Linked DNA regions of Homo sapiens: all the other regions are linked to region 1. Evidence: fine-mapped expression QTL. A gene starts in region 1. Each other region holds a variant in brackets. All regions are shown on one strand. Distances are between the middles of the regions.

Evidence for each region.
Region 2: its variant is fine-mapped to the expression of VWA8 in nucleus accumbens (GTEx, PIP 0.99). The same link has a PIP of 0.9 or more in putamen.
Region 3: its variant is fine-mapped to the expression of VWA8 in whole blood (INTERVAL, PIP 0.97).

The regions. Positions count from the first base shown.
Region 1 is chr13:41,956,915-41,965,098 of GRCh38, reverse strand. VWA8 (von Willebrand factor A domain containing 8) reads left to right here and starts at 3,990. Exons shown (of 45, transcript NM_015058.2): 1 at 3,990-4,246. The coding sequence starts at 4,084. It overlaps VWA8-AS1 (VWA8 antisense RNA 1), which reads right to left and starts at 3,930. Exons shown (of 4, transcript NR_039974.1): 1 at 2,865-3,930. RefSeq lists a silencer at 3,911-4,320 and enhancers at 4,521-4,660, 4,756-5,256, 5,257-5,757.
Region 2 is chr13:41,829,281-41,837,464 of GRCh38, reverse strand. VWA8 (von Willebrand factor A domain containing 8) reads left to right here. Exons shown (of 45, transcript NM_015058.2): 13 at 3,934-4,094; 14 at 6,823-6,936. Among named protein-coding and RNA genes, the nearest start is that of VWA8, 130 kb to the left of the region's middle. The variant C/T (reference allele first, on the strand shown) is at 4,717.
Region 3 is chr13:41,801,885-41,810,068 of GRCh38, reverse strand. All of the region lies in intron 17 of VWA8 (von Willebrand factor A domain containing 8), which reads left to right. It also overlaps the pseudogene RN7SL515P. Among named protein-coding and RNA genes, the nearest start is that of VWA8, 160 kb to the left of the region's middle. RefSeq lists an enhancer at 6,540-7,739. The variant A/TTA (reference allele first, on the strand shown) is at 4,068.

The DNA.
Region 1 (8,184 bases):
CCTGTCTCAAAAAAATGGAAAAAAGAGCAATAAGAGGTCAGTCTTGGAGTACCAAAGAACCAGTGACTTTTGTGTTTTTTTTGTTTTTTTGTTTGTTTTTTGTTTTGAAACAGAGTTTTACTCTTGTTGCCCAAGTTGGAGTGCAATGGCACGATCTCAGGTCACTGCAATCTCTGCCTCCTGAGTTCAAGCGATTCTCCTGCCTCAGCCTCCCGAGTAGCTGGGATTACAGGTGCACATCACCGCACCCAGCTAATTTTTTGTATTTTTAGTAGAAATGGGGTTTCTCCATGTTAGCTAGGCTGGTCTCGAACTCCTGACCTCAGGTGATCCGCCCGCCTCGGCCTCCCAAAGTGTTGGGATTACAGGCGTGAGCCACTGCACCTGGCTGTGATTTTCCTTTTTCCCTCCCTCTCTATAAAGAACAGTTGTACAGCTTCATGACTGAAATGTGTGGCACATGGGTGATCTCCTATAGGTATTACTAAAGATGAATATTCTTGGGCCCTTTCAGACCTATTGACTCAGAATCTCTGGGTGCAGGGAGGAACGAAACCCTATAATCTGCATTTTAATAAGTTCTCCAGGTAATTAGGATGCACACAAAAGTCTGGGAACCAGTGGTATGAACCTTTGATTTCTTAGCTGGGGTAGACAGTAGGGAGGAGTGGAGCACCCACCTTTTTTCAGTCAGACATAGCATGGAAGGATTATTAGTTGCATTTTTCATCAAGTTACATTAATGTGGTATGTAAAAAATATTCCTCCCAAACTCTGGAAAGAGCTTGACAGTCAATACTAGCTTTTGGTAGTGTGATTTTCTTTTTTCTTTTTTTTTTTTTTTTTGAGACAGAGTCTCACTCTGTTGCCCGGGCTGGAATGCACTGGTGCGATCTCAGCTCACTGCAACCTCTGCTTCCCGGGTTCAAGCGATTCTCCTGCCCCTGCCTCCCGAGTAGCTGGGATTACAGGCACCCACCATCACGCCTGGCTAATTTTTGTATTTTTAGTAGAGATGGGGTATTGCCATGTTGGCCAGGCTGGTCTCAACTCCTGACCTCAGGTGATCCACCCATCTCAGCCTCCCAAAGTGCTGGGATTATAGGTTTGAGCCACTGTGCCCGGCTGGTAGCTTGTTTTTTAATAAGCATGTGATCAGATATTTTAGTGAGAGTTTGAGAGACTTTACACAGATTGTGATGAACATCTTTTAAAACAAAACACCTTTGGTTCTTCTTTAAAAACATTGTGAAGGTCCATTCTTTCCCATTCAGTCTCATTGCCATCAGCACTGTTCATCATTTCAAGTAGAGACTATTTTTACTGCCACGTAGCTAGCACTTGATGCTTCCTGTCTTCCTAATTCAATTCATAGTATGTCACCACCTAAAACACGATCAAAAAGTCCAGTAGCTGCCCAGTTTGCTCATCGGATGAAGTCCAACTTCATCCAGCTACTCAAGATTCTTCACTCTGTAACCTTCTCCTCCTGCTCTGCCAACACCTTCTACTACTTTCGAAAGATTAACCTCCTCATCTGGCTGGTCTCATGGCCCCTGTAACTGAACTCTGTCAGGACTCCAAGCCTCTACTTAGGCTCTATACCCCGCTTCTCTGTGTATCCAGTCCTAAATGGCATTCAAAGTTAAGCTCAGGTGCTGCCTTTTCTCAGGCTCAAAGTTTTCCTCCCCATTGTAGCTTTGTCACTCTAAAAAACCTTCACCATTTTTCCATTTCCTGGAGGTTAATGTGCAAACTCCTTCTCTTGGCATACAACATGGCCCCAGATTCTCTTTCTGGTCTTATTCTTACAAACTGTTGTATATACTTGACCTCTAGACACACTGAATCACTCTCTGGTTCTCAATCATGCCCTGCACTTTCAGCTGTTTCTTTCTCTCTCTCTCTGTACATGATCTGTCTGCCAGATTTGACTTGTCTCAGCCTGACAAACTCTTGTATAATATATCCTACATGAATCATTTCAAACACTACCTTCTCTGTGAAGACTCCAGGTGCAGCAATCCACTCCACAGTATGTTGAACCTAAATCTCTTGACACGTGTCTCACTGTATTGCAATTCTTTATTTGCATATTTATCATCAATACCTAATGTGAGCCCATTGATTCACAGTATCTAGCAGGGTACTGTTTATACAGCAGTTACTCAATAAATGTTGTCGTTGGGAGGCTGAGGCAGGAGGATCACTTGAGGCCAGGAGCTTGAGACCAGCCTGGGCAACATAACAAGACTCCACTGCTACGAAAACAAAAACACAAAAATTAGCCAGGCACAGTGGTGCACGCCTGTAGTCTCAGCTACTAGGGAGGCTGAAGCAGGAGGATCACTCGAGCCCAGGAGTTCGAGGTTGCAATGAGCTATAATACTGCCGCTGCACCCCAGCCTGGGCAACAGAGTGAGACTTTGTCTCTAAAAAAAATAAAACTAGGCAAAAAATGTTGTTGAATGCTCTAACTTGTGTTGATCTCTCCATTGTCTTAACTCCAAGAGCTCTTAGTGCTTATATCAACCACTTTGCAAAATTGCCTTAGGTTGTTCTCCCATTCTTTCAGGTGTCTACTGAGTTCCAGCGAGATTAAATGGAGATATCTTGACCAAGGTATTCAATTCTTCTAGCCTCAGTTTCTTCATCTGTAAAACGGAGGATAATAATAGTACCTCAAAGCATTTTTATGTGAAATGGGATAATTCATTAAAATCTTGATACATACAATGTGCTCAAAGTAGGAAAAGCATTTTATAAGCTTACATCCTAAATTTATGTCTTAGGGTTGCTATGAGGATTAAATGAGAAGATACACATGAAACGAAGTCATAATATATTGTGTAACTACTTATTACCTTTATTTTCACTGTCTCCTCATCTAGGTTAGAAGCCTGGTTCAGCCTTCATTCCTCAAGTTCTTCCGCTGGATGCCCAAAGCCTTCCTTACCTAGCCTTGTTTGACTTTTACAGTCTCCACTCTAACACTCTCTTCTCAGCACTCATCACAGGGTCAGGCGCAGGGTAGGTGCTATGTATTTAGACAGTGGCAGCTCTAGAATTAGCAAGGTCTTTAGCTGAAAGTGAGGTCTTCTGCCTTCTTTTTGATGTTTGCTTGTATAACTTGTCTCAAATATTTTGCCTTAGTCAATTCACTGTGACATTTTGGGGATGCAGTCTAATTACATTAGGCTTAGTTTGCTTTGTGGTAGGACCATTTCCGATGTTGGAATGTACAAGAGGGAGGCAGCCTTAGCCAGTGTCCTACTTTTTCCTTTACTAAAGACATAAATCATCTTTATATAACTTTTGTATTACAGCATGACTAGAAAAGTGCTTGATCTGGATCCTTTCTGATATTTAAGCAATTTCCATCTATCACTAAGATGTGAATTTTTTCCTTAGAATTTAGGAAGCGGTAATAAAACACAGAAACAAACAACCACCACCAAAAGGACAAAGGGTAAAGCTTTCACGTACGGTTTGGAAACACTAGTGTGGTTACAATGAATCAAGACAGTTGTGAAAGTTCCCATCATCTTGTGCATGTTTTCTCCATTTCCGAAATCTGAAGCCGAATACAGGGAAAGCTCCCTATACTTACTGGGCCTTTAACTAAGAAACGAAGACTTGGGGCAAGCATCTGAAGAGTCACACCGACAAATGCTCCTAAAACCCTTGGCATTTACTGAACTCCTGAGATTCTGTGGGATCGCAGGGAAACGGCGGGTGAAGGCCTGGTGCATCCAGGTGAACAGACAGTCTCACGGACTGCGAGGCGCTTGCCAGAGCCCAGCGCCGCAGCTCGGAGCACCCCCGCGGTGCGGGCAGTCCCGGGACGGTGCCGGCTCTTTGGGCTGGAGCTCCGCAGGCTCTTTCCGCCCGTCTGGGCCATGCAGGGCCGGGTAGGGCCGGGCTGAGTCTACTGAGCCGGCCGCGCCGCGGGGGAAGGAGTTTCCGGCGGACTCGGCTAGGTGCCGCTTCCTGTCCCCTTCTCCGCGCTGCCTCACGGTGCCTGCACGGGACGCCGCTCGATCCCCGAGCCCCCTCGCCGTCCCCGACAGCCCCCCCGGCGCCATGCAATCCCGGCTTCTACTCCTCGGGGCACCCGGAGGCCACGGCGGCCCGGCCTCGCGGCGCATGCGGCTGCTCCTGCGGCAGGTGGTGCAGCGCAGGCCGGGTGGCGACAGGCAGCGGCCGGAGGTCAGACTGTTGCACGCCGGCTCGGGGGCCGACACAGGTAACTCGGGGTGCGCCCCTGTCCTCCCTGGTGCCCCTGCGCTCCGTGCCGGGTCCCCGCGCGCCCCCGCCCCTCCTCTCTGTTGCTTCGCTGCGCTTGGAAGGACCGTTTGCCGAGCGGGGAGCTGAAAGATTGAGGTTCTAGTCCCGACCTCGGCGCTAACTGCTGTGTAACGTGGGGGCAAGGCGCTCGCCCTCTCTGTGCCTGATTCTGCAACCCGAGGGGTCTGGACTAAGGTTTCTGATGACCTAGAAGAGTGATTTCTCCTTCCCCTGCCGCTGCCTTTACCCCCAGAATTCTGACTTAGGTTATAATACTCGTAGAGGTTAATGCCTCAGCCCTATGGAATTATTGAAAGCTGGATTTGACCTTGCTCTCTGAGCCTCAAGGGCCTGGAAGCCGGTCTGTGTCATGTTCTAGCCAGGGCTTGTGGCGGCTTAGAAGGGAACATTCTTGCCAAAGAACCCATAGTTCACGGTGTTTTAAATGCATCCCCGAGCCTTTCCAAGTTTTACAGGAGTTTTCCTTAAAGTTTCACGTAATTCTTAGAGCTGACAGTTACACCTTAATTTAGTTAAAACACTTGCCTCTACAAATGAGGTAATTGAAACCCAGAAGGGAAAAGTGATTCGCTGGAGAACACACAACTAATTACTATGCTAGAATCACATGCTTTGATTTCTAAGCTCAGTATTTTTTGGCTCTACTTGAGCTGGTTTTAGGAATTCTTTTTCTTGTGTGTTGGTGGAGTTAGAGTTACTGTGATGGTTAAGGAAAGGATATCTGTTGTTGCTACCCTTGAATGGTGAAGTGATTCCAGACAAGATTTTGTCAATGTCAGTGCTGCTTGGAATAACAGGTTTTCACTATGAAATTGTAGGTTTCGTTGTCCTCTTGCATTTTCCCCGCAACCCCCAGTTTTCCTTGCTAAGAAATGAGCATATGGGCCGGGCGCGGTGGCTCACGCCTGTAATCCCAGCACTTTGGGAGGCTGAGGCGGGCGGATCACGGGGTCAGGAGATCGAGACCATCCTGGCTAACACGGTGAAACCCCCGTGTCTACTAAAAAGAAAATACAGAAAAATTAGCCGGGCGTGGTGGCGGGCGCCAGTAATCCCAGCTACTCCGGAGGCTGAGGCAGAAGAATGGCGTGAACCCGGGAGGCGGAGCTTGGAGTGACCGGAGCCACTGCACTCCGGCCTGGGCGACAGAGCAAGACTCCATCTCAAAAAAAAAAAAAAAAAAAGCATATTTAGGTCCCACGTATTTCGTTTTATTCATTGAAGACATACACCACCCCCGTCCCCCACCATAGTGTTGCAATTTCAAATTTTACTTTTTGTTTTTTTTTTTTTTTTTGCTTTTTCTCAATTACTCTCACTTCTGGGCTGTTTATTCATTTGTTTTTTACATTTTTTGTGTGTTCTTTATTTGTTTTTTGCTCCTTTGCCCTAGAAGGCAGAGGTCAAAGGTGGAAGTATAGCATAAACTATAGGTTGGGTTTTGGAGTTAAACAATTTGGGTTGGAATCCACTTATCCACTATCTAACCATGGGTCGTTGAGGGTAGGTTACTTAACTTTGTGTCCTAGTTTTCTTAACTGTAAAAGGATAAGAAGAATATATCTATTATGGTTGTTGTGAGGATTTATTAATTAATATAATCTGTGGCACATATTAATGCTCAATAAAAGTTAGCTTTTTTATTCTTAGTATGTACAGTTTTAGCTATTTGAGAATTATTCTGTTTCCTTGCCTTTAGAAGACATGAAACCAAGTTTGTTTAGATTCAGGACTGTTCAGACTATCTGGGTAGGCAGATTTAGCCGAGTGAATTGACTTGAACTTTTTAAAAAACAATTGTTCTTTGTACATGGATAATACATGTTGATTGTAAAAACACATGTGGGTGTGAGTTTTTAAAGTCTGTATTATATACGTATTGGTAGATAAGTTGTAAATGTCCTCAAATTTTGTTATAGCCAGTAAATCAAAGTATAGGCTTTGCTTCAAATGTGAGAGTCATGGACATATTACAGAGAACATACTATCTTCTTTAAATCAGTCATTTACTCTGGCAGGATCAGACCAAAAAGAGGTATTTTTTGAGGGTGTGAGAACTGTAACTGAATGCAGCTGGGAACCCACCAGAGATCTGGACTTGAGTAAGAGCAGTTGTGAGCCAGGTAAATGGACAGCACACTTTTGGCTACTCTGAGGCCTGAGAGTAAGGCTATCAAGATGGAAGTGTCCCATTTTGAATCAGAGATCATACATGGACAAGTGTAAAACTACAAATAGCAATAGGCCATAATGGATTACATCTTATGTTGGGATGATGCTCTCAGCTGCATTCATACATGTGACCAGTAACTGATTATCTCCTCTCTCTGTAATTGACATTGCTTCCTAATAGTTTGAAAAAAGAACAACAAAGTTCATAAATAATATATTTAAGTTATATACTGCTGTTATTTCTCCTGGAGTATTTGTTTTGTTTATCTATATATTCGTTTGGTGCCTGCCAACACTTTGTACCTAGTAAGCATTCAGTGGCTTATTTTGTGAAAGTTCATACAGAGAAGGAGCAGGAGAGGCTGGAATTGTCGTTTGCTCTCAAGAGAGGACCTTTGTTAAGCCTGATAAGCAGAAGGAAAATAGGTCATTTATGTTAAAAACAAAACAAGCAGATAAACTCAACCCAAACCCACTGCTTTTTATCCTGTGCTGTCAGATAGTATAAGTATCTATAATTGTAAATTCTTTATATCTCTTTATACTTCCATTAAAATTACTGTCTCTTGGTTTTAAGAGCAAAGAGGTTAACAAGGATATCTACTGCAGAGAGTTTTCAATAAAGATTATTGTAGTGTTTTTACAGATGGAGCCAAGCAAGTTGTTTCAGTGGGACTCTGATGTTAAATGGATTCAAATATACTATAGATCAAATGATAAACCTAGAAACATAACTGTATAAATATATCATGACATTTTGGTGCTTTCCTTTAACGCCATTATTATTAAAGGGATTCACAGTTTTTTCTTTATGACTCTTGTATATGAAGTAAATTTGTTTATAGAAATACCCTAAAATACTTTTACACAGCAATCTATGTTTATTATAGAAGAGTGATAAGTACAGATTCCCTAAAACATGATCCTCCCACCCAAATTTATAATTATCAACTTTTTAGCATTAATCCTATCAGATTACATATATATGTATAATTATTTATTTATTTATTTTTGAGATGGAGTCTTGCTGTGGCACCCAGGCTGGAGTGCAGTGGAGCAGTCTTGGCTTACTGCAACCTCCACCTCCTGGGTTCAAGCGATTCTCCTGCTTCAGCCTCCCAAGTAGCTGGGACTACAGGTGTGCACCACTGTATTAATCTGTTCTCACACTGCTATAAGGACATGCCAGAGACTGGGTAATTTATGAAGAAAAAGAGGTTTCATGGACTCAATAGTTTCGCATGGCTGGGTAGGCCTCACAATCATTGTGGAAGGCGAAGGAGGAGAAAAGTCACGTCTTACATAGCGGCAAGTAAGAGAGCTTGTGTACAGAAACTCCCCTTTATAGAACCATCAGACCTCGTGAGACTTTTTCACTACCACGAGAACAGCACAGGAAAAACCTGCCCCCATGATTCAATTACCTCCCACTGGGTCCCTCCCATGACACATGGGGATTATGGGAGCTAGAATTCAAGACAAGATTTGGGTCGGACACAGGCAAACCATATGAGCCACCCCAGCTAATTTTTGTATTTTTGGTAGAGATGGGGTTTCACCATGTTGGCCAGGCTGGTCTCGAACTCCTGACTTAAAGTGATCTGCCCATCTTTGCCTCCCAAAGTGCTGGGATTACAGATTTGAGCCACTGTGCCTGGATGATATGTATATTTATACAGATACATTTTTTTAAAGAAATGGGAT
Region 2 (8,184 bases), 130 kb after region 1:
TGATTAGATTCAGTTGTTCTGTGAAAGTTTAGTTTTGCTTTGGTGTCCTTGCACTTTCACACAATTGAAAATACCTTCTGATAATAACTAATATTGGGGAAAGTAGGGCCAACTATCTCTTTAAGGAAAAGCTGAAATGTTTGTCTTTCAATAGAAGTTGTTAATTATGAAAACCAATAGCTTATATTAAAGGGAGTGCTTTTCTTTCTCTTAGGAAGGTTTTTATTTTGATGCAAAGGTTTATTAGAAATTGGCAGTGGCTCATACCTGTAATCTTGCCACTTTGGGAGGCTGAAGTGTGAGGATTGCTGGAGGCCAGGAGTTCAAGACCAGACTGGACAACAGAGTGAGAACTTGTCTCTACAAAATATTTTTTAAAAATCTCTATCTATCTATCTATCTATCTATCTATCTATCTATCTATCTATCATCTATCTGCACGTGTGTGTTTATTAAAAATGAAGAATGGCTCTTTCTAATATGATGGTATACAGAGTTTAGGTGATAAAATTTAACTGAGCTAGTCTTCTAAGAAATATCAAGTATTTCCCATGTTCTATCCCTCCGAAGATTGAAAAGAGGAAGAACATTTCTGGTCTATAGCTTTGGTTGGCATTTATAGCGGTGAGCTATATTGATCTGCTGCTGCATATTGTGTAGCAAAAAATAATCATTCATTTTACTTTAGCAAATGTAAGCGAGTCTCCAACTACTAGATTGTAAAAGAAGAGCCCTATGTACTAGTTGTCTTTTTCATCATCTCTGTTAGTATAAATGTTTACTTACTTGAATAAGGTAAGTACTGTACACATCCTGTGAATTAATAAGATAAAAAATACTTTGGAATCATAACCAAATGAAATAGTGCTTTTTTATATCATGCACAGAATGGTGATTCAGATATGTTGGTATAAGAATGAGGAATTCTTTCTATTGAAATTAAAAAAAAAATGTTACCAGTTTTTAGCTTCAGCTTTTTAGGAGTCTGAGCCTCTTATGTCTGCTGAAGTCACGACATTCCTCATCTTTTCCTGGGCCCAAGCAAAAGACTCCTAACCTTAATTGGGCCAGGATATCAGCTGTTTTCAGTCTGAAGCTGTGATTTTCAAAATTAACATCCATCAGTTTCTTTGAAAGTATGATATTAGTTGAATGCCTTCATCCTGCCATCTCCTCTCTGAATTCCAATAGGAATGCTTAAAATAGACAAAGCCTACTCTTTTTTTCTCTTATTTTTAACTTTACTTTTAATTTATGTTATTTTGTTGTGCATTTTGTATATCTTTTGCAATCTCACATCATATTAGAACAAGGAAGGGTATAGATAAGTGAATTTTAATTTAATATCTTTTTAAGCAGTGTTTCCCACGTGGGAGGCATATCAGAATCATCTATGTAATGTTTAATAAAAAACAGATGGTAGGCCCCATGTTGGCCCTGATGAATCAGAATCTTCAGGATAGTGGAGCTTAAGTTTATATATGTTTCAAAAGTTCCCCACCTGTTTCTGATAATGTATCTTTAATTTTGAACCACTGCGCTAAACTGTGTTTTCTGTTTCTTTTTTTACTTTTCCAAGGTAATGTGTGATGTAACTCTATGGCAAATATTTTTCTGGAATGATTCATACCAGGAGTTTTCTTTAAATTTATCTGTTTTTATATTTACTTTAAAAAATTCTGTGTGTTTGTATGTATTTGTATACATACATATATATACAGACACATATATATTTATATGCACATGTATATGCATATGTAATATTTGATTTTTTTTCATAGTTTGACTATAAAAATGACCCACAGACACTTATTTTGATTTTGTCCTGTTCTAGAGAGCGATCCCTTTGGTGTTCTGTAGCATAAGCATGAGTGGGAATGAATCTTTTGCTTGGGCCCAGGAAAAATGAGGAATGTCGTGACTGTCTCAGTAAACACGGATGATGGTGATCAATTTAGTCTTGGTTGTTATAACTGTCATTGGCATCAAGAGAGTGATATTGCTCATATAATTTGCATATAATTTAGAATTCATAGTTGAAGAATTAAATAAAGTTATTTAAAAAGAACAAATTTTGACAATGTGTCAAAACCAGCCTTTTAAGTTTATGGGAAGTTGCTGAGTTTGAATGTTACTGTTTTTCAAAGGTCTTTATGATTCAAAATGAGCCTATTCATACTTCCTAAGTCAGTACTTTCTCTTTTTAAAATTTCCAACTTTTATTTTGAGTTCAGAGGTACATGTGCAGGATGTGCAGGTTTGTTACATGGGTAAACGTGTGCCATGGTGGTTTGCTGCATAGATCATCCCATCACCCAGGTATTAAGCCCATCATCCATTAGCTGTTCTTCCTGATGCTATCCCTCCTCCCTCCTCTCACCCTCTGACAGGCCCCAGTGTGTGTTGTTCCCCACCATGTGTGCATGTGTTCTCATCATTCAACTTCCACTTATAAGTGAGAACACGTGGTATTTGGTTTTCTGTTCCTGGGTTAGTTTGCTAAGAATAATGGCCTCTAGCTGCATCCATGTCCCTGCAAAGGACATGATCTAGTTCCTTTTTATGGCTGCATAGTATTCCACGGTGTGTATGTACCACATTTTCTTTATCCAGTCTATCATTGATGGGCATTTAGGTTGATTCCATGTCTTTGCTCTTGTGAACAGTGCTGCAGTGAACATACGCATGTATGTATCTTTATAATAGAATGATTTATATCCCTTGGGGTATATACTCAGTAATGGGATTGCTGGCTTGAATGGTATTTCTGCCTCTAGGTCTTTGAGGAATTGCCACACTGTCTTCCACAATGGTTGAACTAATTTACACTCCCAACAGTGTAAAAATGTTCCTGTTTCTACAGAACCTTGCCAGCATCTGTTATTTTTTTGAATTTTTAGTAATAGCCATTTAGTCAGTACTTTCTTGATAGTGAGAAGATTGAAACAATTAAGACTTAAATTTTAATCTTGGTTTCAATACAGATTCATTGCCATTATGAATATAAAGCAAATTCATTAGTTTTCTATCTGCTGAAAGTTGGGAGTGTGTAGCCAAGAATTTACAGAAGACTTTAAATATTTGGATAAAAATGACTGTAAATGTGTTTAACTTTTCTTTGCTATAAGTCGCACAAAATGTATCTGAAGGTGATAGAAAAGAAACTATCCACATTAGCACATGTAAGAAAAAATTGTTCATATTATATAGCTCCAGTTTTTTACAGTAGATAAACTTTTATATGCCACAACTATTAATAGTTTGCTTAAGTCTGTTACACTATTTTATTGTTAGCACATTGTGTGTGTGCTTTTAAAAATTGCTTTTAAGTGCTATGCTATTGTTTCCCAATTCCTGTACCTCATCTGATGACTGTCCTCTTCAATTTCCTCCATTATCAAGCCTCTTTAAATAAAATGAGTCATTGTGATGGTCCTAGCATAGCTTTTCAGGAAAACTCATCAACTGCTAGAAAATGCACATTATTGATAAACATCTCTGCATGTTGAGTTTGCATGATCTCTCATTTTAAAATTGAGTCAACACATGGATGGTTAGGTCACCATAAAAGTTGGCATATGAAAACACAGGAATAGAGCTGATTGAGTTAAATTCTGTTATTCAGGTGGAAATTACTGCCATTATGTAAACGAACATTTTAAAAGCGGAAGAAAATGCTAAATATAAAGTAGGGAAAAAAACCTCTCACTCTTACTATATTATGTAATGAGTAATGGAAAAAAATCCTAAAATGACCAAAAAAAAGCTTTCTGAAGAGCTTTCGTTTTAGGAATTGGAGAAGATGACTTCTCTGTTACTATATGGAATGTTAAGTTCAGACGGAGGTGACTCTATAAAGCCATGTAAGCTACCTTGCATGTCTTAAAAATTAATTCGTCATGTTCTTTGTTGGGTGGTGGGGATTTGTTTTAGGATATGACAGCGCGTGATCTGCTACAGCAGAGATACACCCTTCCAAATGGAGACACTGCCTGGCGGTCCTCACCCCTTGTGAATGCTGCTCTGGAAGGCAAGCTGGTCCTGCTGGATGGCATTCACCGGGTGAATGCGGGCACGCTTGCTGTATTGCAAAGGTGGGTATGAGTCACAAAAATCACACACAGACACACACCCCACTCTGACTTAAGCAGTAAAGATGGAACTATCTCATTCTTTTTCTTTTTTTTAAACTGGGTTGTGTAGATCCTGAAAAATCATGATTCTATACCAAGTAGAATGGCACTTTTTTATTGTTATAAACACAATGCAGTAAAACTCCAAATAATGAACATTTTGGGAAAAGCCACTCCTGTAGCAGAATTCCGTGTGTAGGCACTGCAAAAAGAAAGTGCTTCAGTAGTAAGTTTGAAAAACTTTATATATACAGGTCTATATATGCAGCATGTCACATTGCTGAAGTTTCTATAATTTGTCAGAGTCACAGCTTCAGTATTTACACACTCCTTATCAATCATAGATCTTAATTATTGGTTGGTCTTGTTGGAATCTTTTTTTTTTGAGAGAGAGAAAAGTAGTTTTGTTTGTAAAATATATAATAGCTTTAAATTATATTTTATATAGACTAAAAAAGCTCACTTTGTTAATTATAAACTTGAACATTTCTATAACTATTGTTTTCTTATTTTGGTTTAGTTGGGAAAAATTTCCACACATTCCTAAAACTTCTCTAGAATTTAATGTTAAGAGAAGGCTCTT[C/T]GTGTGTAACTTTTGTAGAAAATATTCCCATCTTGTATCATTTTAGGAGATTAATGATACTGATATTTTCTGTTTATTTTGGTTCTCTAACTTGTAGACATTTGATTTTTAACTGTGACTCATTAGGAAAGGTTAAATAAGTAGAATAAGCCATTATCCAACTAACCACTTAGAGTTTTTTTTTTCTTGATGTGATGCAGATACTGAATGTAATTAAAAATTCTAAATACGTTATGTTAATCCTGATTAGATTTTAGAACATTTAAAAATAGTCACAAACTTTCAGTGATTTACCATAAACGTTCCATAGATTTACAATATTTTTTTCTCCCAGACCACTGCAGACACGGTAATAGTCCCATTTTATTAGCTATCTCTTGCATGTTTGCAAGTAGTAATAATAGAAGCAGCTACTACCATTAATTGAGTACCTACTCTGTGCATTGTGCTAAGCCAGTGCTTCTCAGGTTCTCAACCTTGGAATCACCTTGCAGGGTGGCAATTAAAAAATACTGATGCCGGCCAGGTGTAGTGGCTCACGCCTATCATCCCAGTGCTTTGGGAGGCCGAGGTGGGCAGATCACGAGGTCAAGAGATTGAGATCATCCTGGCTAAGATGGTGAAACCTTTTCTCTACTAAAAATACAAAAATGGACTGGGAGTGGTGGCATGTGCCTGTAGTCCCAGCTACTCAGGAGGCTGAGGCAGGAGAATTGCTTGAACCCGGGAGGTGGAGGTTGCAGTGAGCCGAGATGGCGCCACTGCACTCCAGCCTGGTGACAGAGCGAGACTCTGTCTCAAAAAAAAAGAAAAAAAAAATGCTGATGCGGGCCAGGTGCAGTAGCTCACACCTGTAGTCCCAGCATTTTGGGAGACCGAGGTGGGCGGATCACCTGAGGTCAGAAGTTTGAGACCAGCCTCGTCAACATGGTGAAACCCCGTCTCTATTAAAAGTACAAAAATTATCTGGGCATGGAGGCATGCACCTGTAATCCCAGCTACTCAGGAGGCTAAGGCAGGAGAATAGCTTGAACCCAGGAGGCGGAGGTTGCAGTGAGCCTAGATCGCGCCACTGCACTGCAGCCTGGGTGACGAGAGGGAGACTCTGTCTCAAAAAAAAAAAAAAAAAAAAAAACTCATGCCTGGGCTTCACCATCAGAATTTTCTGATATAATTGGTCTAGGCCAAGGTCTGAACATTGGCATTTTTAAACACTTCCCAGAAGATTCTAACGTACAGTCAAGATTGAGAACAGCTATAAGCATCCATTTTACATTAGCTGTTTAGTTTTCACATTAATATTGTGAAGTTGTGACTGTTGCCTTAACGTTATGGAAGACGAGAGTTTAGAGAGATAGAGTCGTTCTCCCTCTCCCCACTCATTCAGCTAGTAAGGTGCACAGCTGGAGTTGAACCCAGGTCTGATTGGTTCCACCGGCCATGCTCCTATCCCCTGCATTACACAGCATCCCCTCCCTTCAGTGCTTATAGAATGGAGGCTATGTAGGCTAACTCTATTGTGGGCATTAGGAGACTTAGGGGTTGGTGTGAGATATAGAACAGTGCTTTTCAGCCATTGCAACATCTGGAAGACTATGCTATGTGTGATGTGGATGGTTAGGTCACCTTCAGAGTTGCCATATGTAGAGCAATGTAGTTATTTCATTATAAGATTTTTGTATTTTTAAATCTTGTAATTCCAAAGATAGAAATATTTTTATGCCAACCCTTACAGAGTTACTTTAGACCGAAGAGAGTAAGTGCCACCTGCCTTGTTTATTAATATGTACCTTGTGGTTATCTTGAGATACTCATTCAGCTGTTTCTTTTGCTCTCCTTCCTCCTCCTCTTTTCTTTTTTCCTCCTCCTCCCCCTCTTTCATATCCCTATCAAATATTTATGACTACTGCCCTCCAGTACAGAAACCAACAGTTTTGCGAAGTGTAACAGCAGTAGCCAATTTGAAATTTTGAAAGGTCCATCTAACAAAATTATTAGACTCAATTGCCAGCAATAATAGACTGTTGGCTGACTGATTCTGCCTCTGAAAACTTCAGTGTTCAAAACACATTAATTTATTTTCGGGCTTTTTTCTTATCTTGTTAGGTTAATCCATGATCGAGAGCTAAGCCTCTATGATGGTTCTAGGCTGCTGAGAGAAGACAGGTATATGCGTTTAAAGGAGGAGCTGCAACTGTCTGATGAACAGCTACAGAAGAGGTAATTTGGGGTCCATTACTCCCATTGCTAATTTATTGTTAAGTTAAAAATAATACTTTTTATGATTTTTCTAAACCTAGAATAATGCCAAGATAACTTTGAACAATTTAATAATTTGGTGTCCTGGATATGCCACTACTTTGGCATTTCTTAAAACTTGAGGTTGCTCTCCAAGGTGTAATCTGTACTCTCAGCCTTACTTTTTTTTTTTAAAAAAAAAAACCTAATCAACTGTTTTATTTGCTTTTTTGTTGTTAATATGACAGTGATTTTTTTTTTTTTTTTTGAGACAGAGTCTCGCTCTGTCACCCAGGCTGGAGTGCGGTGGCGCAATCTCGGCTCATTGCAAGCTCCGCCTCCCAGGTCCATGCCATTCTCCTGCCTCAGCCTCCCAAGTAGCCAGGAACACAGGCGCCCGCCACTACACCCAGCTAATTTTTTGTATTTTTTAGTAGAGACAGGGTTTCACCTTGTTAGCCAGGATGGTCTCGATCTCCTGACCTCGTGATCCGCCCGCCTTGGCCTCCCAAAGTGCTGGGATTACAGGCGTGAGCCACTGTGCCCGGCCGACAGTGATTTTTTTAAAAAAATTTTTTATTTCAATAGTTTTTGGGGCACAGATGGTTTGTGGTTACAGGGATAAGTTCTTTAGTGGCGATTTCTGAGATTTTGGTATACCTGTCACCTGAGCAGTGTACCTGATATGTAGTCTTTTATCCCTCACCGCCCCCCACAAGCTTCCCTGCCCCTGAGTTCCAAAAGTCCATTATATCATTCTTATGCTTTGTGTCCTCATAGCTTAGCTCCCACTTGTAAGTGATGACATGCAATATTTGGTTTTCCATTCCTGAGTTACTTCACTTAGAATAATGGCCTCCAGCTCCATCCAAGTTGCTGCAAAAGATATTATTTCATTCCTTTTTATGGCTGAGTAGTATTCCATGGTGTGTGTGTGTGTGCATGTGTGTGTGTGTGTGTGTGTGTGTGTGTGTGTGTGTATCACATTTCCTTTATCCACTCGTTGGTTATAGGCACTTAGGTTGGTTCCATATCTTTGCAATTGTGAATTCTGTTGCTATAAACATGAATGTGCATGTATCTTTTTCATATAATGACATCTTTTTTTGGGGGTAGATACCCAGTAGTGGGATTGCTGGATCAAACAGTAGTTCTACTTTTAGTTCTTTAAGGACTCTCCATACTGTTTTCCATAGTGGTTATACTAATTTACATTGCCACCAGCAGTGT
Region 3 (8,184 bases), 160 kb after region 1:
TTAATTGGGGTGAGGTGATACCTCATTATAGTTTTGATTTGCATTTCTCTAGTCATCAGTGATGTTGAGTACCTTTTCATATACCTGTGTGCCATTTGTATCTCTTCTTTTGAGAAATTTCTATTCAGATCTTTCATGCATTGTATAATCAGATTATTAGGCTTTTTCCTACTGAGTTGTTTAAATTCATATATTTTATCAATCCCTTGTCAGATGGATGATTTGCAAATATTTTTTCCCATTCTGTGGGTTGTCTCTTCACTTCATTGACAATTTCCTTTGCTGCCCAAGAAGCTTTTTAACTCAATGTGATCCTATTTGTCCCATTTTTGCTTTGGTTGCCTATGCTTGTGGGGAATTACTTAAGAAATATTTGTCCTGACCAATGTCTTGGAGAGTTTTTCCAATGCTTTCTTTTAGTAGTTTCATAGTTTGAGGTCTTAGATTTAATTCTTAATCCATTTTGATTTGATTTTTGTATATGGCAAGAGATAGGGTCTACTTTCATTCTTCTGCTTATGGATATCCAGTTTTCCCAGCACCATTTATTGAAGAAACTCTCCTTTCCCCAATGTATGGTCTTGACACATTTGTCAAGAATGAGTTCACTGTAGGTGTATGGATTTGTTTCTGGGTTCTCTATTCTGTTCCATTGGTCTATGTATCTGTTATGCTAGTACTATGCTGTTTTGGTTACATAGCTCTATAGTATAATTTGAAGTCAGGTAATATGATTGGTTCAGTTTTGTTCTTTTTGCTCAAGATGGCTTTGGCTATTCTGGGTCTTTGTGGTTTCATATAAATTTTAGGATTATTTTTCTATTTCTGTAAAGAATGTCATTAATATTTTGATAGGGATTGCATTTAATCTGTAGATTGTTTGTGGTAGTATGGACATTTTAACAGCATTGATTGTTCCAATCCATAAATATGGAATATCTTTCCATTTTTTAGCATCCTCTTCAATTTCCTCCATCAGTGTTTTATAGTTTTCATTGTAGGGGTCTTTCCCTTCTTTGGTTAAGTTTATTCTTATATATATTATTTTATTTGTAGCTGTTGTAAATTGGATTACTTTTTTTATTTCTTTTTCACATTGTTCACTTTTGACATACAGAAGCGCTACTGATTTTTGTATGTTGATTTTGTGTCCTGCAACTTTAATGAATTTGTTGATCAATTCTAATAGGTTTCTGTTGGAGTCTTTAGGTTTTTTTTTCAAGTATAAGCTCATATCATCTGCAAACAAGGATAATGTAATTTTTTCCTTTCCAGTTTGAGTACTTTTCATTTCTCTCTTGTATCCAGTTGCTCTAGGTAGGTTTTCCACTACTGTGTTGGATAACAGAGGTGAAAGTGTGTATCCTTGCCTTGTTTCAGATCTTAGAGGAAAGGCTTCCAGTTTTTCCGATTCAGTATTGATATGGGTTGGATCTGTGTCCCTGCCCAAATCTTGTGTCTAATTCTAATCCCCAGTGTTGGAGGTGGGGCCTGGTGGGAGATGACTGGATCATGGGGGTGGATTTCCCCTTGGTGATGGTCTCATGACAGTGAGTGAGTTCTCATGAGATCTGGTTGTTTAAAAGTTTGTGGTACCTCCCTGCCTCTCTCTCTTTCTCCTGCTCTGACAATGTGAAGTGCTTGTTCCCCCGTTGCCTTCTGCCATGATTTTAAGTTTCCTAAAGCCTCCCCATAAGACAAGAAAATGCCAGCGTCATGTGTCCTGTACAGCACCATGAGCCAATTAAAGTTCTTTTCTTTATGAATTACTCAGTCTCAGATATTTCTTTATAGTCGTACAAAAACGGACTAACACAAGTATGATACTAGCTGTAGGTCTGTCATATATGGCTTTCATTGTGTTGAGGTATGTTCCTTCTATACTCAGTGTTTTTTTAAAAAAGTTTATTTTTATTTTGTTAGTGATTTTAAATATGGAGTCTCACTTTGTTGCCAGGCTGTATAGTTTTTGTCTTGAAGTCTATTTTGTCTGATATAAGTATAGTGACTCCTGTTTTTTGTTTGTTGGTTTGTTTCATTTGACATGGAATATTTTTTTCTGTCCCTTTATTTTCAGTCTATGTATCATCATATGTGAAGTGTGCTTGTTGTAGACAACGGATCGTAGTGCAGTGGCTATTCACAGGCGCGATCTCCCTGCTGATCGACACAGGAGTTTTGACTGGCTCTTTTTCTGACCTGAGCCAGTTCACTCTTCCTTAGGCAACCTGGTGGTTCCCCGCTCCTGGGAGATTACCATATTGATGCTGAACTTAGTGCAGATACCCAGTCAGTATAGTGCATTACAACCCAGAACGCCTGGGCTCGAGCCATTCTCTTGCCTCAGTGTCCTGAGTAGCTGGGACTACAGGCATGCACCACTGTGCCCAGCTATCCTCATCATTTGGAGGGTTTTCATCATGAAGGGATGTTGAATTTTATAAAATTCTTTTTCAGCATCAATTGAAGTGATCACATGGTTTTTGTTTTACCTTCTGTTGATATGATGCATCACATTGACTGATATGCATGTGTTTAACCATGCTGGCATCCCTGGCATAAATCCCGCTTGGTCATGATGAATGATCTTTATAATGTGTTGTTGAGTTTGGCTTGCTACTATTTTATTGAGGATTTTTGCATCAACATTTGTCAAGGATATTGGCCTGTAGTTTTCTTTTTTTTTGATGTGTCTTCTCTGGTTTTGGTATCAGGGTAATAGTGGCCTTGTAGAACAAGTTTGGAAATATTCCCTCCTCCTCTATTTTTCAGAATGGTTTCAGTAGGATTGGTATTAGTTCTTCTATAAATGTTTGGTCAAATTCAGCAGGCAAGCGATCAGGGCCCAGGCTTTTCTTTGCTGAAGACTTTTTGTTATGGTGTCAATCTCGTTACTTGTTATTGGTTTGTTCACATTTTCTATTTCTTCGTAGTTCAATCTTGAGAGGTTGTGTGTGTTTAAGAATTTCTCCGTTTCTTCTTGGTGTTCCGATGTGTTGGCATATAGTTTCTCATGGTAGCTTCTAATGATCCTTTGTATTTCTGTGGTAACAGTTCTAACGTCTCCTTTTTCATCTCTGATTTTATTTATTTGAATCTTCCTTTTTCTTAGTTGGAGTAAAGGTTTGTCAATTTTATCTTTGCAAAAAACTAACTTTTCATTTCATTAATCTTTTCCTTTTTTTTTTTTTTGAGATGGAGTCTCACTCTGTTGCCAGACTGGAGTGCAGTGGCACGACCTCAGCTCACTGCAATCTCCCCTTCCAGGGATCAAGCAATTCTCCTGCCTCTGCCTCCTGAGTAGCTGGGATTTCAGGCATGTGCCACCACACTCAGCTAATTTTTGTAGTTTTTTTTCTTTTTTTTGAGACAGAGGCTTGCTCTGTTGCCCAGGCTGGAGTGCAGTGGCATGATCTTGGCTCACTGCAACCTCTGCCTCCCAGATTTAAGCTGTTCTTCTGCCTCAGCCTCCCAAGCAGCTGGGACTACAGGCACGTGCCACCATGCCCAGCTAATTTTTTGCATTTTTAGTAGAGATGGGGTTTCACCATATTGGCCAGGATGGTCTCGATCTCCTGACCTTGTGATCCGCTGGCCTCAGCCTCCCAAAGTGCTGGGATTACAGGCGTGAGCCACTGCGCCCAGCCTATCCTTTGCATGTTTAATTTAAATTTTATTTGTTTCTGCTCTGATGTTTATTATCTCTTTTCTTGTACTAATTTTGGGTTTGGTTTGCTCCTGCATTTCTAGTTTTCCAAGATACATTGTTAGGTTATTTGAAGTTTTTCTACTTTTTTGATGTAGGCTTTTATGGCTATAGACTTTTCTTTTATTATACTGTTTTCGCTATATCCTATAGGATTGGTGTGTTTCCATTTTCATTTGTTTCAATAAATTTTTCAGTTTTCTTCTTAATTTCTTCATTGACTCACTGGTCATTCAGGAGCCTATTGTTTAGTTTCCATGTATTTGTGTAGTTTCCAAAATTCCTCCAGTTACTGATTTCTAGTTTTATTCCATTGTGGTCACAGAAGATACTTGACATCATTTCTTTTTTTTTTTTTTTT[A/TTA]TTTTTGAATTTTTTAAGACTTGTTTTGTGGCCTAATATATGGTCTCTCCTTGAGAATGATCCATGTGCTGAGAAGAATGTGTATTCTGCAGCCGTTGGATCACATGTTCTGTAAATACCGGCAGGTCAGTTTGGTCTGTAGTGCAGATTAAGTCCAACATTTCTTTTTTTCTTTTTCTTTTTTTTTGAGATGAAGTTTTGCTCTTATTACCTAGGCTGGAGTGCAATGGCGCAATCTTGGCTCACTGCAACCTCCGCCTCCCAGGTTCAAGCGATTCTCCTGCCTCAGCCTCCCAAGTAGTTGGGATTACAGGCGTGCACCACCATGACCAGCTAATTTTTGTATTTTTAGTAGAGATGGGGTTTCTCCATGTTGGTCAGACTAGTTTCAAACTCCCAACCTCAGGTGATCTGCCCATCTCAGCCTCCCAAAGTGCTGGGATTACAGGCATGAGCCACCGCACCCAGCCATGTCCAATATTTCTTCGTTGATTTTCTGTCTGGGTGATCTGTCCAATGTTGAAGTCTCCAGCTATTATTGTATTGGGGTTTATCTCTCTCTTTTGCTCAAAAATATTTGCTTTTATATATTTGGGTGCTCTAGTATTGGGTGCATATATATTTAAAATTGTTATATGCTCTTGCTGAATTGACCCTTTTATCATTGTATAGCAGTCTTCTTAGTCTCTTCTTATAGTTTTTGTCTTGAAGTCTATTTTGTCTGATATAATTATAGTGACTCCTGGTTTTTCTTTTGTTTGTTTGTTTCATTTGGCATGGAATATTTTTTTCTGTCCCTTTATTTTCAGTCTGTGTATCTTCATATGTGAAGTGTGTTTCTTGAAGACAACAGATCATTGAGTCTCATTTTTAAAAATCCATTTTGCTACTCTGTCTTTTGACTGGAAAGTTTAGTCCATTTACATTCCATGTTATTGATGAGTAAGGAATTATTCTTGCCATTTTGTTGTTTGTTTTTAGGTTGCTTTATGGTCTTCTCTTTCTTCTTGCCTTACTTTCTGTCTTCCTTTAGTGAAAGTGATTTTCTCAGGTGGTGTGTTTTAATTTCTTGCTTTTCATTTGCTGTATATTTGGATTTTTTGGTTCGAGGTTACCATGAGGCTTGCATATAATGCCTTATAACTCGTTATTTTAAACTGATGACAACTTAATACTGATTGTGTAAATAAAGAGAAAACTAATAAAAACTCTACACTCTAACTTTGTCCACCCACTTTTTCACTTTTTGTTGTTACTGCTTATATCTTATTGTACTATCTATGTCTTGAGAAGCTGTTGTAGTTATTATTTTTGTTCAGTCATCTTTAATCTTTATACTCAAGTTATAAGTAGTTTACATACTACAAATAAATGTTATGACATTCTGTCTTTTTCTGTATACTTACTATTACCAGTGAATTTTGAGGCTTCAGATATTTCTTACTGCTCATTAATTTTTTTTTAATTTTTAAATTAATTTTTTAATTCCTTTTTTTTTCCCTTGTAGGACAAGTGTGACATTTATTAAATCCGTCCACTTTTGTTTGTCTGGGAAAGTCTATATTTCTCCTTCATGTTTGAAGGATATTTTTGCTGGTTATTCTATTTTAGGATAAAAGCTTTTTCCTTCAGCACTTTAAATGTATCATGCTACTCTCTACTGGCCTGTAAAGTTTCCACTCAGAAGTCAGCTGCCAAACCTAGTGAAGCTCCATTATATGTTGTTTGTTTCTTTTCTCTTCCTGCTTTTAGGTACCTCAGATATCTTGAGGTTGTCTTTTTTGAGTTAAATTTGCCTGGTGTTCTATAACCTTGTTGTACTGGAATATTGATGTCTTTCTCTAGGTTTGGGAAGTTCTCTGTTATTATGCCTTTGAATAAGTCTTCTACCCTGATCTCTCTCTACCTCCTCTTTAAGGCCATTTACTATTAGATTTGCCCTTTTTAGGCCATTTTCTAGATCTTGTAGTCATGTTTTATTCTTTTTGATTGTTTTATTCTTTTGTCTCCTCTGACTGTGTGTTTTCAAATAGCCTGTCTTCAAGCTTACTAATTGTTTCTTTTGCTTGATCAATTTTGCTGTTGACAGACTGATGTATTCTTCAGTATTTCAATTGAATTTTTCAGCTCCAGAATTTTTACTTGATTTTTAAAAATTATTTCAATTTCTTTGTTACATTTATCTGATAGAATTCTGAATTCCTTCTCTGTGTTATCTTGAATTTCATTGAGCTTCCTCAAAATAGCTATTTTCCATTCTTTCTTTAAGGTCACTGATGTGGTTTGGCTGTGTCCCCACCCAAATCTCATCTTGAATTGTAGCTCCCATAATTCCCACAAATTGTGGGAGAGACCTGGTAGGAGATAATTAATCACGGGGGCGGATCTTTCCCATGCAATTCTTGTAATAGTGAATAAGTCTCATGAGAACTGGTGGTTTTATAAAGGGGAGTTTCCCTGCACAAGTTCTCTTCTTTTGTCTGCTGCCATGTGAGACGTGCTTTCACTTTCTGCCATGATTGTGAGGCCTCCCCACCCACATGGAACTGTGAGTCCATTAAACCTCTTTCTTTTGTAAATTTCCCAGTCTCAGGTATGTCTTTATCAACAGTGTGAAAATGGACTAATACAGTCATATATCTCTGTCTCTCTGAGATTGGTCACCGGTGCCTTATTTGATTGTTTGGTAAGGTCATGTTTTCCTGGATGGTCTTGATGCCTGTGGATGTTCATTGTTGTCTGGGCATTGAAGAGTTGAGTATTTATTGTAGTCTTCCTTGCCTGGGCTTGTTTGTACATGTCCTTCTTGGGAAAGATTTCCAAGTATTCAAAGAGAATTGAGTGTGTGATCTAATTCTGGTCACTGCAGCCATACCTGCATTAGGGAACACTCCATGCCCTGTAATGCTGTGATTCTTGCAGACTCATAGAGATACCACATTGGTGGTCTTGGGTAACCAGGAGAATTCCTTGGACTGCTAGACAGAGACTCTTGCTCTCTTCACTTACTTTCCCTCAAACAAATGGAATCTCTCTCTCCATGCTCAGCTGTCTGGAGTTGGGAGAGGGATGGCCATCACCACTGGGATTGTGCTGGGTCAGACTTGAAACCAGCACAATACAGGGTCTTGCCCAAGGCTTGTGGTGAGTATTGTCTGGCTACCACTTATGTTTATTCATGGCCCAACTATTCTTTAGTCAGGTTGTGATTCATCCTGCTAGGCCTGGGAATCTCCCTTCAGGGCAGTGGGTTCCCTTCTGGCCCAGGGTGGGTGTCAAAATGTCATCCAGGAGCTAAGTCCTGGAATTGGGGACTTTAGCAATTTGTTTAGTGCTTTATTTTACTTTGGCTGAGCTGGTACCCAAATTGTAAGACAAAGTCCTCTTTGCTCTCCCCTCTCCTTTCCTTCAGTGGAAGGAATCTCTGCCAGAGCTGCAAGCTGTGCTGCCTGGAGTTGAGGAAGGGACAGTGCAAGCACTGCCTTGGCTGTCCGCACTGGTGTCTGACTGGGTCACATGCACTCCAACTCTACCGACTCAGCATAGCACCAGGACTTGCCCAGGAATTGTATTCCTGTGGCCTAGACAGCCTTTCAAGTTTATTTAGAACACAGAGCACTTTAGCCTGTGGTGGTGGGGCTAGTTAGAATTCAGGTTCTGACCCCTGGGATGAATGATTATTCCCCTCTAGCTAGGGCTGATCAAAATGCTACCCTGTTGCTCTCCACTGTGACAGGGTAGCACTGAATTCCAATGCAAAATACCACAATCAATATGCTCTTTCTCTCCCAAGCACACAGATTCTTTCTCCAAGCTATGTAGCACCACTAGGGGATGGGGAAGAGGTGGTGTAGGCAATTCAAGACTGTCTTTCCTACTCCCTTCAGTGCCTCCTTCCTTCATATGATGTTGAAACCAGGTACTGTGATTGCTCACCTGGTTTTTGGTTCTTATGAAGGTGCTTTCTTATGTGGATAGTTGTTAATTTGGTGTTCCTGTGGAGGGGAGGACAATTACTGGAGGGTTCTATTCAGCCATCTTGGTCTACTTTCATTCCATTAATATATTATCTTATTTAGACATTCAATAATTTTCAGAGGTATTTTATAAATGAGAA